Regions from separate parts of the Homo sapiens genome. Here all the other regions are reported to be linked to region 4. Evidence: microRNA targets listed by miRTarBase, many of them from high-throughput screens and not tested one by one. Region 4 holds a microRNA gene; each other region holds the end of a gene's coding sequence.

Evidence for each region. The annotated mature microRNA hsa-miR-377-3p reads AUCACACAAAGGCAACUUUUGU and lies in region 4 at 2,273-2,294, shown strand. An mRNA with a match to its seed (bases 2 to 7 or 8) in the 3' UTR can be bound and repressed. Matches are read on the target gene's strand: a 7mer-m8 pairs with bases 2 to 8, a 7mer-A1 pairs with bases 2 to 7 and ends in A, and an 8mer does both.
Region 1: the mRNA of DCAF12 is a reported target of hsa-miR-377-3p. Seed matches in the 3' UTR shown: 7mer-m8 at 283-289, 7mer-m8 at 627-633 and 7mer-m8 at 659-665.
Region 2: the mRNA of TMEM69 is a reported target of hsa-miR-377-3p. Seed matches in the 3' UTR shown: 7mer-A1 at 2,408-2,414 and 7mer-m8 at 2,389-2,395.
Region 3: the mRNA of DUSP26 is a reported target of hsa-miR-377-3p. Seed matches in the 3' UTR shown: 8mer at 692-699 and 7mer-A1 at 733-739.

What each region holds. Positions count from the first base shown.
Region 1 is chr9:34,085,401-34,088,551 of GRCh38, reverse strand. It overlaps DCAF12 (DDB1 and CUL4 associated factor 12), which reads left to right. Exons shown (of 9, transcript NM_015397.4): 9 at 44-2,165. The coding sequence ends at 202. Among named protein-coding and RNA genes, the nearest start is that of UBAP2, 38 kb to the right of the region's middle.
Region 2 is chr1:45,693,311-45,696,461 of GRCh38, reverse strand. TMEM69 (transmembrane protein 69) reads right to left here. Exons shown (of 3, transcript NM_016486.4): 3 at 2,026-3,151. The coding sequence ends at 2,557. It also overlaps a transcript of IPP not described here. Among named protein-coding and RNA genes, the nearest start is that of TMEM69, 6.7 kb to the right of the region's middle.
Region 3 is chr8:33,589,273-33,592,272 of GRCh38, reverse strand. DUSP26 (dual specificity phosphatase 26) reads left to right here. Exons shown (of 4, transcript NM_024025.3): 4 at 61-943. The coding sequence ends at 260. Among named protein-coding and RNA genes, the nearest start is that of DUSP26, 9.2 kb to the left of the region's middle.
Region 4 is chr14:101,059,822-101,062,972 of GRCh38, forward strand. MIR377 (microRNA 377) reads left to right here and starts at 2,229; the gene lies at 2,229-2,297. It overlaps MIR496 (microRNA 496), which reads left to right and starts at 752; the gene lies at 752-853. MIR154 (microRNA 154) reads left to right here; the gene lies at 1-17.

The sequences.
Region 1 (3,151 bases), not on the chromosome of region 4:
CATGGCTAGAGGTGCTAATTGTAGTCTCTTTCTCTTCCCGTAGAATCATGATGAAACCTGGAGGAATTACTTTTCAGACATTGACTTCTTCCCCAATGCTGTTTACACCCACTGCTACGACTCGTCTGGAACGAAACTCTTTGTGGCAGGAGGTCCCCTCCCTTCAGGGCTCCATGGAAACTATGCTGGGCTCTGGAGTTAATGACAACTCCCCAAATGCAGAGATTTACACTAACTTCCATTCTCAGTTTCCTTGTTTCTTTTGATTTTTTTTTTCCTAATTGTGTGAGGCTCTTGTGTTTTAGTGGGAACACCAAAGTTTGCCTATAGTTTAGGCACTTAATAGGAAGAAGCTCTGTACAGAAATCTGAAAGTTGTTTTGCTTTTTGTTTTCCCCTTTGGTAATCAAAATTTTACTATCTTTTATTATTTCTGGCTTTTCAACCAAACATTGTTGCTAATCCCTATTTTTCTTTAAGTGACACACATTCTCCTGTCTCTGGCTTCTTCAGGCTGAAATGACATAGCTCACCCTTACTTCACTCTTGAGAGGTAGGGCTCCTTTATAATTACATGGTTGCTCTCAGACTTTCTGTGAAAGTTTGGGAGCTGTGTGTGTCTGTGTGTGTGTGAGAGAGAGATCTTGTCTGCGTGTGTGTGTGTGATCTTGTGTGCCTGTAGGTACTGTGTGTCACTGAAATTACCTGGAGTGAGGATTACTTGTAATTAAAATATTTATAAAAGAAACAACTTTATTCACAGAGTCCAGCTTTGGGACTAGTCTGTATCTTGTTTTTTAAGTCTAACAACACTGATAATAGGAAGTAAAAACAGAAAGGAAAAGAAATTACCACTGGGAAAATCTTTTTAGTTAGATTGTAGGCTTCCTGGGGCCTCCCATGCCAGGACTGCAAAGTGATCCAGCCCTACCTGTCTTCCCACCTGTGTGTCCCCCGTGTGGGAAGTTGGTGTCACTTCCCCTTCCCACCCTCACATCTGCTTAGCCAGTAGCCACACCCCTAAAACATCAGACTCACCATCCAGGTGCAGCTCCAGAGGCTACAAAAGGCTTCATGGGACTTGAATCCCCATCCTAGCTTCTCTCTCCTTCCCCTCAAGACCTGATCTGGTTTTAAGGGGCCTGGAGCTGGGAGTCTCAAGTCTGCTAAGATTCACATCCATAGCCCCCATGGCTTTGAGGAGAATCCTCTCTGCCATTCTTCCAATCTCCCCAGTGGGTTTTGCTATTATTTTCTAAATTGGGTTAAGTCTAAGAAGGTGGGGGTGAGCAGGGGGTTTATCTGTGTGTAGTGAGTGCTTCATGTGTGGAATATTCATTTTCTTACTGCAGTGGGACTTGGGGTTGAAGCCACCCCTCCTACTCTGTTGGCTTAGCCCTGAGATGGTGACAGGCTGGCCTGCAGTCAGCATCATTGTGCATGTGACAGCATCAATGTGATTAGTAATTTGTCTGTTCCTCCCTTGAACTGTCTGTTTAGTCTGAGGTTTTTAAACTTGCAGGCAGCTGACTGTGATGTCCACTTGTTCCCTGATTTTTACACATCATGTCAAAGATAACAGCTGTTCCCACCCACCAGTTCCTCTAAGCACATACTCTGCTTTTCTGTCAACATCCCATTTTGGGGAAAGGAAAAGTCATATTTATTCCTGCACCCCAGTTTTTTAACTTGTTCTCCCAGTTGTCCCCCTCTTCTCTGGGTGTAAGAAGGGAAATTGGAAAAAAAATTATATATATATTCTCCTTTTAATGGTGGGGGGCTACTGGAGAGGAGAGACAGCAAGTCCACCCTAACTTGTTACACAGCACATACCACAGGTTCTGGAATTCTCATCTTCGAACCTAGAGAAATAGGTGCTATAAACAGGGAATTAAGCAAAATGCTGGATGCTATAGATCTTTTAATTGTCTTAATTTTTTTTCTATTATTAAACTACAGGCTGTAGATTTCTTAGTTCTCACAGAACTTCTATCATTTTAAACTGACTTGTATATTTAAAAAAAAAATCTTCAGTAGGATGTTTTGTACTATTGCTAGACCCTCTTCTGTAATGGGTAATGCGTTTGATTGTTTGAGATTTTCTGTTTTTAAAAATGTAGCACTTGACTTTTTGCCAAGGAAAAAAATAAAAATTATTCCAGTGCACAATGGTGTGAGTGAGTATTGTGTAGCCAGGAGCCTGCCAAAAAGGCCCCACATGACTAGTTGGAAGGTTGGCTTGAGCTGTTGGGATTGCTTGTGGCAGAAGGGGAACACAAGCCATTACCTCCAGGTTAGAGGCAGGTCAAGTGCAGGCACAAATACTAAGACCTGCTTGCTCTGGGTCCCCAACTCTAGCCCAAGATGAGTTGCTCTGAGGTCCAGCTGAGGGTGGATATGCCCAGGGTACTGAAGTAGTGTGACGTTACTTCTGTTACATAAGTAAGGGTTGGTAATAGGCCCTGTCTGCTTGGATGGTGCCCTGAGAATGACGCTGAAAGTGCTTGCATAGTACTCTGGGAATAGGATATTAATTTTTGTTTTTTGTAGTTGGAACCATAGACCTTCACTGCCCTTTGTAAGGGGAAGACACAGTGACCACAGTGAGTGATGCTCTTCTAGAGCCTATTTGGAGCTGTAGCTGAGAGAAACTGCCAAATCATACCACCCTTCCTCACACAGTCATCTCTGGGAAACCCACCAGGGCTAGGCCGCAGAGCCTGGCAAGGCCGTCCCTATTCTTCTGCCACATGGTACTTGTTCTTTCCAGGGCAAGCTGGACACAGCTGCTCTATGCACCTGCCTTAGAGACTGACTGGTTCAGAACATGACACATGGGTTCCTATATGATCAAAGGCTGCAAGACAGGAAGGGGAGATGAGTAAGTTAAAGCAATTTGAGAGGGCTCCCCAGAGGAGACGAGTTACATTTGGAAAGGGCTGAAACTAGCCTTTCCCAAAATGAATTTAGAAGGTATTTGTAAAATCTTCATTGTCAGCCGGGTGCAGTGGCTCACACCTGTAATCCCAGCACTTTGGGAGGCCCAGGTGGGTGGATCACCTGAGGTCAGGAGTTTGAGACCAGCCCAGCCAACATGGTGAAACCCCATCTCTACCAAAAATACAAAAATTAGCTGGGCGTGTTGGCGGGTG
Region 2 (3,151 bases), not on the chromosome of region 4:
TCTAGTTTTTTTGTTTCTTTGTATTACTTTATCAGTGGCATTCTGGGTTACCAAACTGTAGTAGGATTGCACAAGTTTTTTAGTTGGTTTTGTTTTAACTTTAAGGACTTGCACATTTCATTTTACATTTAATTCTGTTTTTTGAGAAATGATTAAAGTGATCTACCTCCAAAATGTTTAACAATCCGATATGCTTCTAAGTATCCTGCCAATGTACTTAATCAAATGTACTTAAAAATCAGTTTTCTTAAAGAAGCATACACTGTAATTCACCTGGAAAAATAGCATTTTTAAGTAAAATTAGGCAATTAGCCTAAAAATATGATTTGCCTCTATTCTGGAAAATAATTCATTTAATTCAGATTATGGAAAAGTCTTAAATTTGTATAGCATTCATGCAATTTAATAACAAAGAAGTGAGTTTCCTTATCAAAACAATCTGAGTAGAATCAGATTGAGACTGAGTGGAAACATCATCTCTAAAAAATATACAGGCCGGGCACGGTGGCTCATGTCTGTAATCCCAGAATTTTGGGAGGCCAAGGTGGGTGGGTCACCTGAAGTTGGGAGTTTGAGACCAGCCTGACCAACATGGAGAAACCCTGTCTCTACTAAAAATACAAAATTAGCTGGGCATGGTGGCGCATGCCTGTAATCCCAGGTACTCGGGAGGCTGAGGCAGGAGAATCGCTTCAACACGGGAGGCGGAGGTTGCGGTGAGCCGAGATAGCGCCATTGCACTCCAGCCTGGGCAACAAGAGTGAAACTCCATCTAAAAAAAAAAAAAATTCCAGGTTATACTATATCCTGATCTATATCCTTAGACCATTTTTAATCCTTAGACCATTTTTAATGTTTTTCCTTTTTGGTGAGACTAGGAATTTCAGAAAACTAGGTTTTCTGTTAATTCTTTTTTTCTCCACCTTAAGTAGAGTGATTAGAGACTACGTTTTCAAGTGAAAATCTAAGGTGTTGCTTTTGCTGTTTTAAGAAAGCTTCTGCACTGGGTGCAGTGGCTCACGCCTGCAATCCTAACACTTTGGGAGCCTAGGCAGGAGGATTGCTTGAGCTCAGTTCAAGACCAGCCTGGGCAACATAGGGAGACCCTGTCTCTACAAAAAATTAAAAAATTAGCTTGGCATAGTGGTGCACAACTGTAGTCCCAGCTACTCAGGAGGCTGAGGTGGGAGAATTGCTTGAGCCCAGGAGGTCGAGGCTGCAGTGAGCCATGACCACACCACTACACTCTGGCCTGAGCAAGAGTGAGACCCTGCGTTTAAACAAAACAAAACAAAAACAAAAACACACCAAAGCTAAAAGCTTCTCTGTGATTTAAAAGATGTAGAACTAGACCAGCCTGTCCAACATGGTGAAATGCCACCTCTACTAAAAATACACACCAAAAAATTAGTTGGGCATGGTGGCACGTGCCTATAATCCCAGCTACTCTAGAGATGCTGAGGCAGGAGAATCGCTTGAACTCGGGAGGTGGAGGTTGCGGTGAGCCAAGATCGTGCCACTGCACTCCAGCCTAGGCGACAGAATGAAACTCCATCTCAAAAAAAAAGATGTAGAACTAGATAGGCCTGCTCATTAGAATATCAAGATGGCTCCAGCTTGACTTTTCTTTCCTAATTTATATGTACTAGTGGCTTTATTTTAAATAGTTTCCTTTGAAAATAATCATTTTGACCAGCTATTATGTGTTTGGTGGTAAGGGACAAGTTGTTATCTGTACCATGCCAAATATCCTAATAAAAACTGGAAAACATGTCCAACTTACCTTTGAATGTGGCTTTCCCTCATGACACTGCTCCCTACTGACTTTAGAGCCATAGATCCTTTTAGCTCATATAATTGGGTTATACCATGTGAAATAAGTTTGGACATGCCTTTCCCAGTGGTAACTCCTGTGAAAACTCAATGGAACTACCTTTTCTTTTCAGATACTCACAGATACGAGGTTTTCCGCTTGAAGTGGGAGAATATGTGCATTCTTTTCAATGATCACAAGACTCTAACAAAGGGGATTTTTAATCTTTAATTTTCAAGATGGTTAAAATATTGAAATGTTTAAGTGGATAACTATATTATTCATAAAATGACTGAGTGAAAACTAATATACTATGAGATGAAAAGTACTTGTCAGGGATTTTCAAGCTTTTGCTCAAGTAATTACCATGAAGTAACAATTTCTAGAAATGAAGAACAATCTGTGAAGATAAATTACCATTGGTGTGGGGAAAAAAAGCCAAACAGAAGTAGAAAAAGGTGTAGCTGGCATACAAATGTTATCTACAGTGTATTTATATATATATATTTTTAAAACTTTTAACTAAAAAGTAAACTTTAATGTCGAAAATGCAAACTTGGGGAAGACAGAAAAGATCACACACAAGGCTGTCACTTCACACGTGGAAGGTTGCACAGCGGCCGGGCAGAGGCGCTTGTCACACTTCCCAGATGGTCAGGCGGCCAGGCAGAGGCGCTCCTCACTTCCCAGACGGGGCAGCAGCTGGGCAGAGGTGCTCCTCACTTCCCAGACTTTTATATTTTTTATACTTGACCAGGTCTCTTATGTCCTTTTTCTGGAAAACTACTTTTAACTACTAAAGTGATTATAAATGAAAAAGTGGCCAATAAAGTGACTACTATCCTCAGGGCTTTAAACCAGTTGGGATAATGTGGTAAGAGAAAAAGTTCAAGGTGGAATGCTACTCCCATACCCATTATTACTGTGACTATGGCTTCACTAAGTCTTTCAGAAATAAGGAAGGCAAACCATGAAAAGAAAAGAGGAGCTGCACTGCTAGCTAAATTAAGGTAGTCTGGTTTGGCTGGACTACCTTCTGGTAGAGCAAAACCCCATCTGATCCCACCCAAGAAAGATAGGAAACTGGCTCCATAAGCCATCTGAGTAAAAGCTAATATGGGAATATAAGTTTTTGTCATCAGCATGACCAGTGGTGGAGCAACGAAGGGGATTAGTCCTGCCAGAGTTACACATAATGCTGGCTTTGGGCTGTCAGTTAGGTAAGTGATGGTGCTTGAGGGTCTGGCTAGAAGTGCTTGCTTCTGCTGCTTTTTAAAGCTGCAGGGGGATGTATGATAGCACTGTGTCTTGCTCATATACGCTGGAAATGATGAGGAA
Region 3 (3,000 bases), not on the chromosome of region 4:
CCAGCCTCCTCCAAGCTGCCACAAGCAGTCTCAAAGCTCTCTCTGTGTCTCTCCTCTCAGGGAAGATCCTGGTGCATTGTGCTGTGGGCGTGAGCCGATCCGCCACCCTGGTACTGGCCTACCTCATGCTGTACCACCACCTTACCCTCGTGGAGGCCATCAAGAAAGTCAAAGACCACCGAGGCATCATCCCCAACCGGGGCTTCCTGAGGCAGCTCCTGGCCCTGGACCGCAGGCTGCGGCAGGGTCTGGAAGCATGAGGGGAGGGGGAGAGAGGTCAGGCCAGGCCCGTGGGTAGGTCCCTGGCTCCCAGCTGGAGATAGGAGGCCCAGGTGGCAGGTAGCAGGAGGCCCAGATCACCCATCCTCCCCTGGGGTCAGGAGAGGCCGAGCCCCAGGCCACTGTCACTCTTTGTGGGAGGGGACGGGGAGTGAGGTTGGGCAGTGTGGTGGATGGGCACCCAGGAAGGGTTGACCAGGGAAGGAGGCAGCTAGGCTGTAGATGGAAGATGGTCCTGGGATTCGAACACCGCTGGGATCTGGCCAGGGTGCTCCCTGGGATTCACAGTCCCTTCCCCTCTTTGTGCCCAAGTGTTTCCCTCTCTCCCTCACCAAAACAAAAGGGCCATCTCTGCCCTGCACTTGTGCAGAAAGTCAGGGATACGGCAAGCATGAATGCAATGGTGTAGAGTTGTGTGAAACCCCTAGCATAGAGACAGACAGCGAAGAGATGGTGTGAAAAGCTTGCAGAACCAGACAGAGAACCCCACAGACTTTCCACTCCAAGCACAGGAGGAGGTAGCTAGCGTGTGAGGGTTGGCACTAGGCCCACGGCTGCTGCTTGGGCCAAAAACATACAGAGGTGCATGGCTGGCAGTCTTGAAATTGTCACTCGCTTACTGGATCCAAGCGTCTCGAGGATAAATAAAGATCATGAAAAAGAAGAGAGTTTCTTGAAGTCATTGACAGTTTGAAAGAGTTCTAGGCCTCTCTCCTGGGAACCCCAACCTTGCTGGAGAAAAGAACAGTCGTGACTCCCTCGTATCCTCCACCAGCCTTCAAACCTCCACCAGTTCTTCTGGTGCTATTCTCCCAAGTCCAATTTCATGCTCCTACAGCGATATATTGGGCTGTTGTTTCCAGGTAGTCCACAAAGGGGCAGCAGAGGACCAGAAAGTTCAGGTTTGCAACAAGCTCTGCTGCTGTTCAGAGGGCACACCCTGTACCTTCCCAGCTTTGAAGAAGTCTCTAGACCCGGCGCAGGGGCTCACGCCTGTTATCCTAACACTTTGGAAGGCCGAGTGGATCACCTGAGGTCAGGAATTCAAGACCAGCCTGGCCAACACGACGAAACCCCATCTCTACTAAAACTACAAAAATTAGCCGGGCACGGTGGCGCACGCCTGTAATCCCAGCTACTTGGGAGGCTGAGGAAGGAAAATCGCTTGAACCTGGGAGGTGGAGGTTGCAGTGAGCCGAGATCGCGCCACTACATTCCAGCCTGCGCGATGGGAGCGAGACTCCATCTCAAAAAAAAAAAAAAGAGGTCTCTATTCACACACCTGGGTGTTAAGAAATATAATACCGCCAGGCACGGTGGTTCATGCCTATAATCCTAGCACTTTGGGAAACCAACGCAGGCCAATTGTTTCAGCCCAAGAGTTTGAGATTAGCCTGGGAAACATGGCGAGACCCCATCTCTATAAAAAAATTAAAAAATAGCCAGGCGGGGTGGAGCATGCCTGTAGTCCCAGCTACTTAGGAGGCTGATGTGGGAGGATCGCTTGAGCCCAGGAGGTTGAGACTACAGTGAGCTGTGACGGCATCAAGGCACTGCAGCCTGGGCAACAGACCAAGGCCATGTCTCAAAAAGAAAAGAGGCTGGGTGCGGTGGCTCATGCGTGTAATCCCAGCACTTTTGGAGGCTGAGGCGGGTGGATCATTTGAGATCAGAAGTTCGAGACCAGCATGGCCAACATAGTGAAACCCTGTCTCTACTAAAAATACAAAAATTAGTTGGGCATGATGGTGCACACCTGTAATCCCAGCTACTAGGGAGGCTGAGGCAGGAAAATCGCTTGAACCCAGGAGGTGGAGATTGCAGTGAGCGGAGATCACGCCACTGCACTCCAGTCTGGGAGACAAAGCTAGACTCCCTTTCAAAAAAAAAAGAAAAGAAAATACAGGGGGACCAAAAAAAAAATCACTTAATATAGCTGTATGTCCAGTCCCAAAGTACAGAACTCAGAACATTAAAGTTGGTAGGTGCCTTCATAGATTATCCATTTCCACTCTCCTCAATCATGGTCTTGCTCTGTTGCCCAAGCTGGGTTGGGGTGATCTTGGCTCACTGCAACCTCCGCCTCCTAGGTTCAAGCGATTCTCCTGCCTCAGCCTCCCAAGTACCTGGGATTACAGGCGCCACCATGCCTGGCTAATTTTTGTATTTTTAGTAGAGATGCGGTTCCACCATGCTGGCCGGCTGGTCTTGAACTCCTGACCTTAGGTGATCTGCCCACCTCAGCCTCCCAAAGTGCTGGGATTACAGGTGTGAGCCACTTATTCAGTATTTTTGATAACAGTCATCAAGCATTTGCTCGAACATCTTTGAGAATAGGAAACCACTACATAATTTCCACACCATCCCACCAGCTCTAAATTTTAGAAAGCTCTGCCTTGTATGCACATAATGCAATCGTGTTATGGTGGTGCTGAGAGGAGGTTGAAAGATCTGACCAGCCAGGATTCCTGGGCTGACTGTAGCACACGCCAATTAGGGGAGGTGACTAAGTCACTTACTTCTTCCCCCTCTGTTTACTGGCAATCGTACAGCAGACTTCCATGGGATTGTTGTGATCATTTAATTACATAAGAGGCTGGGTGCATGGTGGCTCACGCCTGTAATCCCAGCACTTTGGGAGGCTGAGGTGGGCAGATCACTAGAAGTCAGGAGTTCAAGATCAGCCTGGACAACATGGTGAAACTCTGTCTCTACTAAAAA
Region 4 (3,151 bases):
CTATTTTTCAGTACCAAATCCCGCCTTGGAGGGCTTCCTGGAGCGGAGTCTTACTTCAGGGTGTCAGCTCCTCTCCAGGGTAAGGAAGGGGACCATTGACCATAGCCGACCCAGCAGTGTGCCCTGGCCCTAACCCTGTGTGTGCCCCGTCCTTGGGGAGGTTTCTAGAGATGGTGCCACCTTTGGGGAAGAAGTGGAGCTTTTCCTATCAGAGCTACTCTGTGGTACTGGTGGAGAGGTCTTCCATGATGCATTCGATTTATTTTTTGACCAATCCTACATAGTGGACTCTTTTGAAAGCATTAAATCTAGCCTTAAAGCACCCTCGGGTGGTGCCGAGTTTAGGAACTAGAACTGGTGTCTGAATGCCTGAACGCACGGCGAAGCTGACAGTGTGCACACTCTTCTTGGTGGGTCGTGCACCTGCAGGCGTCCTGCTTGCTTACCATGGCAGTTTCCTCGAAAGAGGCGGCAGTTCCCTCATCGGCTCACTGCATGTTTGACAAGACACCGTCTTGCTGTCTTCCCTGCTGCCCTCTCTTCATGTATCACAGATGGTGCTCTGCAGACCTCTCTGCTGTGGCACTTCCCTCCCTGAATGGCTTCCTGCAAGAGGTGCTAATTGCAAGTAAGGGATGGAGTGCGGCCCGGACCGCAGAGCTTATTTCGTGGGTGGTGTGTTGCCACCTTCCTGACTCTCAGTATCCCGTCCGTCCTCAGGCCTGCTGCTGGGACGCGCTGGAAGCGAGCACCCAAGTCAGGTACTCGAATGGAGGTTGTCCATGGTGTGTTCATTTTATTTATGATGAGTATTACATGGCCAATCTCCTTTCGGTACTCAATTCTTCTTGGGAAACGTCACGAGGGGAAAGCCCAGCCGGCACCTGCGCAGGGTAAGGAAGTGGATCACCTCCGCATGACAGGTGCTCTCTGTGTGACTTACATCACTTGGCTCATATCCCGGCCATCATTAGGAGGAATTCCCCGAAATGATGCTGACGTTTTAGTTGACATGGTGGTCTTCTAGTCGCATCCTTGAAGACTCGTCAGTGAATAAACCACATTTAGTCAACCTTTTTAGGTGTGAAATCATCTTGGCTGTGTGGCACACTTTAGGGAAAGGAACTCCTGGCTGAATGGAAGACATCCACATTACGCCCTCAAATACCTTATCTTCTGGGTGACCTCTGGGAAGCAAGGGGTGAAGGGGGTTTCCTCAGCAGTGAGAATTAATGTTGTTTAAAGACACATTTCCATGGCACGACTCGGTTATTCCTACTGCAAGACGAGAATTGTTAATAGCATTTATTACTACCTTATGTTGCCAGCTGTGTGCCCTTGGAAAATCCCTTCACCTATCAGCTCTCTGGGCCTCAGTCTCTTCCTCTGTAAAGCAGGGTTAACAGCGGAGTGGAAACGTGCTCTTTGTGAAGTGTCTAGACAGCGTCTGGCACGTGGCTGTAGGATAAGCATTGTTTCTGAGGATGGTCATTATATGAATGTTATGTCATCTGCACTCATTGTCCTCTCGCCACTAGAATGGAAGCTCCCTGAGGGCAGAGTCCTTGTCTGTTTTGCCTGGTGCTGTGTCGCCAGATGTGCACAGTAGGTGTGATGCTGAATGAATGAATAGGCAGCGTGACCTGTTTTCTTGGTTGAACTCTCTTTGAGGCCTCCTGGAATGGAGTGCATGGAGTACAGTCACCTGAGCCTGTGCTGTCCCTGTGACGCAGCCCCACCCACCCTCTGAGGATGCTGCGCTGGACGAGGAGTCGCCAGCCTTCAGGTCGGGTCCTCCCTCAAACCCCTGTAGGCTGGACTGAACACGGTCACATGGTTCATTGGCAGCCCCCTTCTCTGTGTGAAATCCTGCTTCAGAGACTTCCAGAGGAGATACCGGCTCTGGAGGTGGACCTTGGTGTTCCAGCCCCTCTAGGGTAGGTGACCAGGGGCTGACTCTAGCTCGGGCTGACCTGTGATGTGTGTGTGCATAGCCTCGCCCCCACTGCCTGCTCCAGGGCTACAGAAGCTGGTCCATGACCAACCATGTTCTGACCACTGCCTGGGGGGCTTCTCGGAGGTAGAGAGAGAGAGAGAGCAAGAGGGGAGAGAGCGAGCCAGCAAGCCAGCGAGCCTGCAGCTGGAGTCAGCAGGGAGGTCCCGCAGGCAATGCCGCCTTTGGTGAAGAGGCATCTCGGTGTGTTCTTGCCCGTGCTGATGTTTGACCCTTGAGCAGAGGTTGCCCTTGGTGAATTCGCTTTATTTATGTTGAATCACACAAAGGCAACTTTTGTTTGAGTATCAAATCCTGCTTGGGATGGCTTCCGGGACCCAGTGGCAAGCTCAGGGGCATCTACACCCCTCCCGTGAGCAAGAATGGACGGGGTAGACGTGGGTGGTCTGCCCTCTGCGGTCCTCTGCGGTGGATGAGAACAGATGTCGCTCAGAGAACACAAGCTTCATTCATGATGGGGGCGGGGCTCGCGGCCCGGGGAGGATGGCGTTGGTGTCGCGTCGGCTTTAGCTCTTACCCTGGACCCTGTCTCTTTACATCACCATTTTGGCTGTGTTGATCCCAAAGACATTTTGACTCCACCATTTTTTTTTCGGAAGGTATTTGACCTCGCGGATACACAAAGAGCTCACACTTGGCAGGGTCTGTGACGAGTCTGCAGCCCCAGACCCCCGTCTAGCTCACAAGCACTGTGCTTCTTTCTGCACCTTTCCTTGTCTCTATCTTTCTCTTTCTATCCCCCAACCAAACATTGTTCCCAATTTTCTCCTGGGTTATGAAACAAATAGAGGCTATCAGTATCTCATCCCATTTGTATTAAATAATACTGATAAAAATAATCAACACAAAATAAAACTAAAAACAGCTGAAACGGCACAGTGCTAAATGTGTTCAGTTGACTACAAATTGGCAGAGGAATCCAATTTTCTTGACAACATTTCAGCTGTGACATTTGACCTGGGGAAATAGCAAGCTGCCGACGTGGCAGCCATGGAAGGAAATTCACGGTGGCGGCGGTGATAAACAGTGATATTTGATGTAGACAAGAACACATTGAGGAATCAAATCTTCATGCAGATTTTTAAATGGAAAAAATTGATCCTAATGAAAATGATTTGGGGAAAATAACAAGGGAAA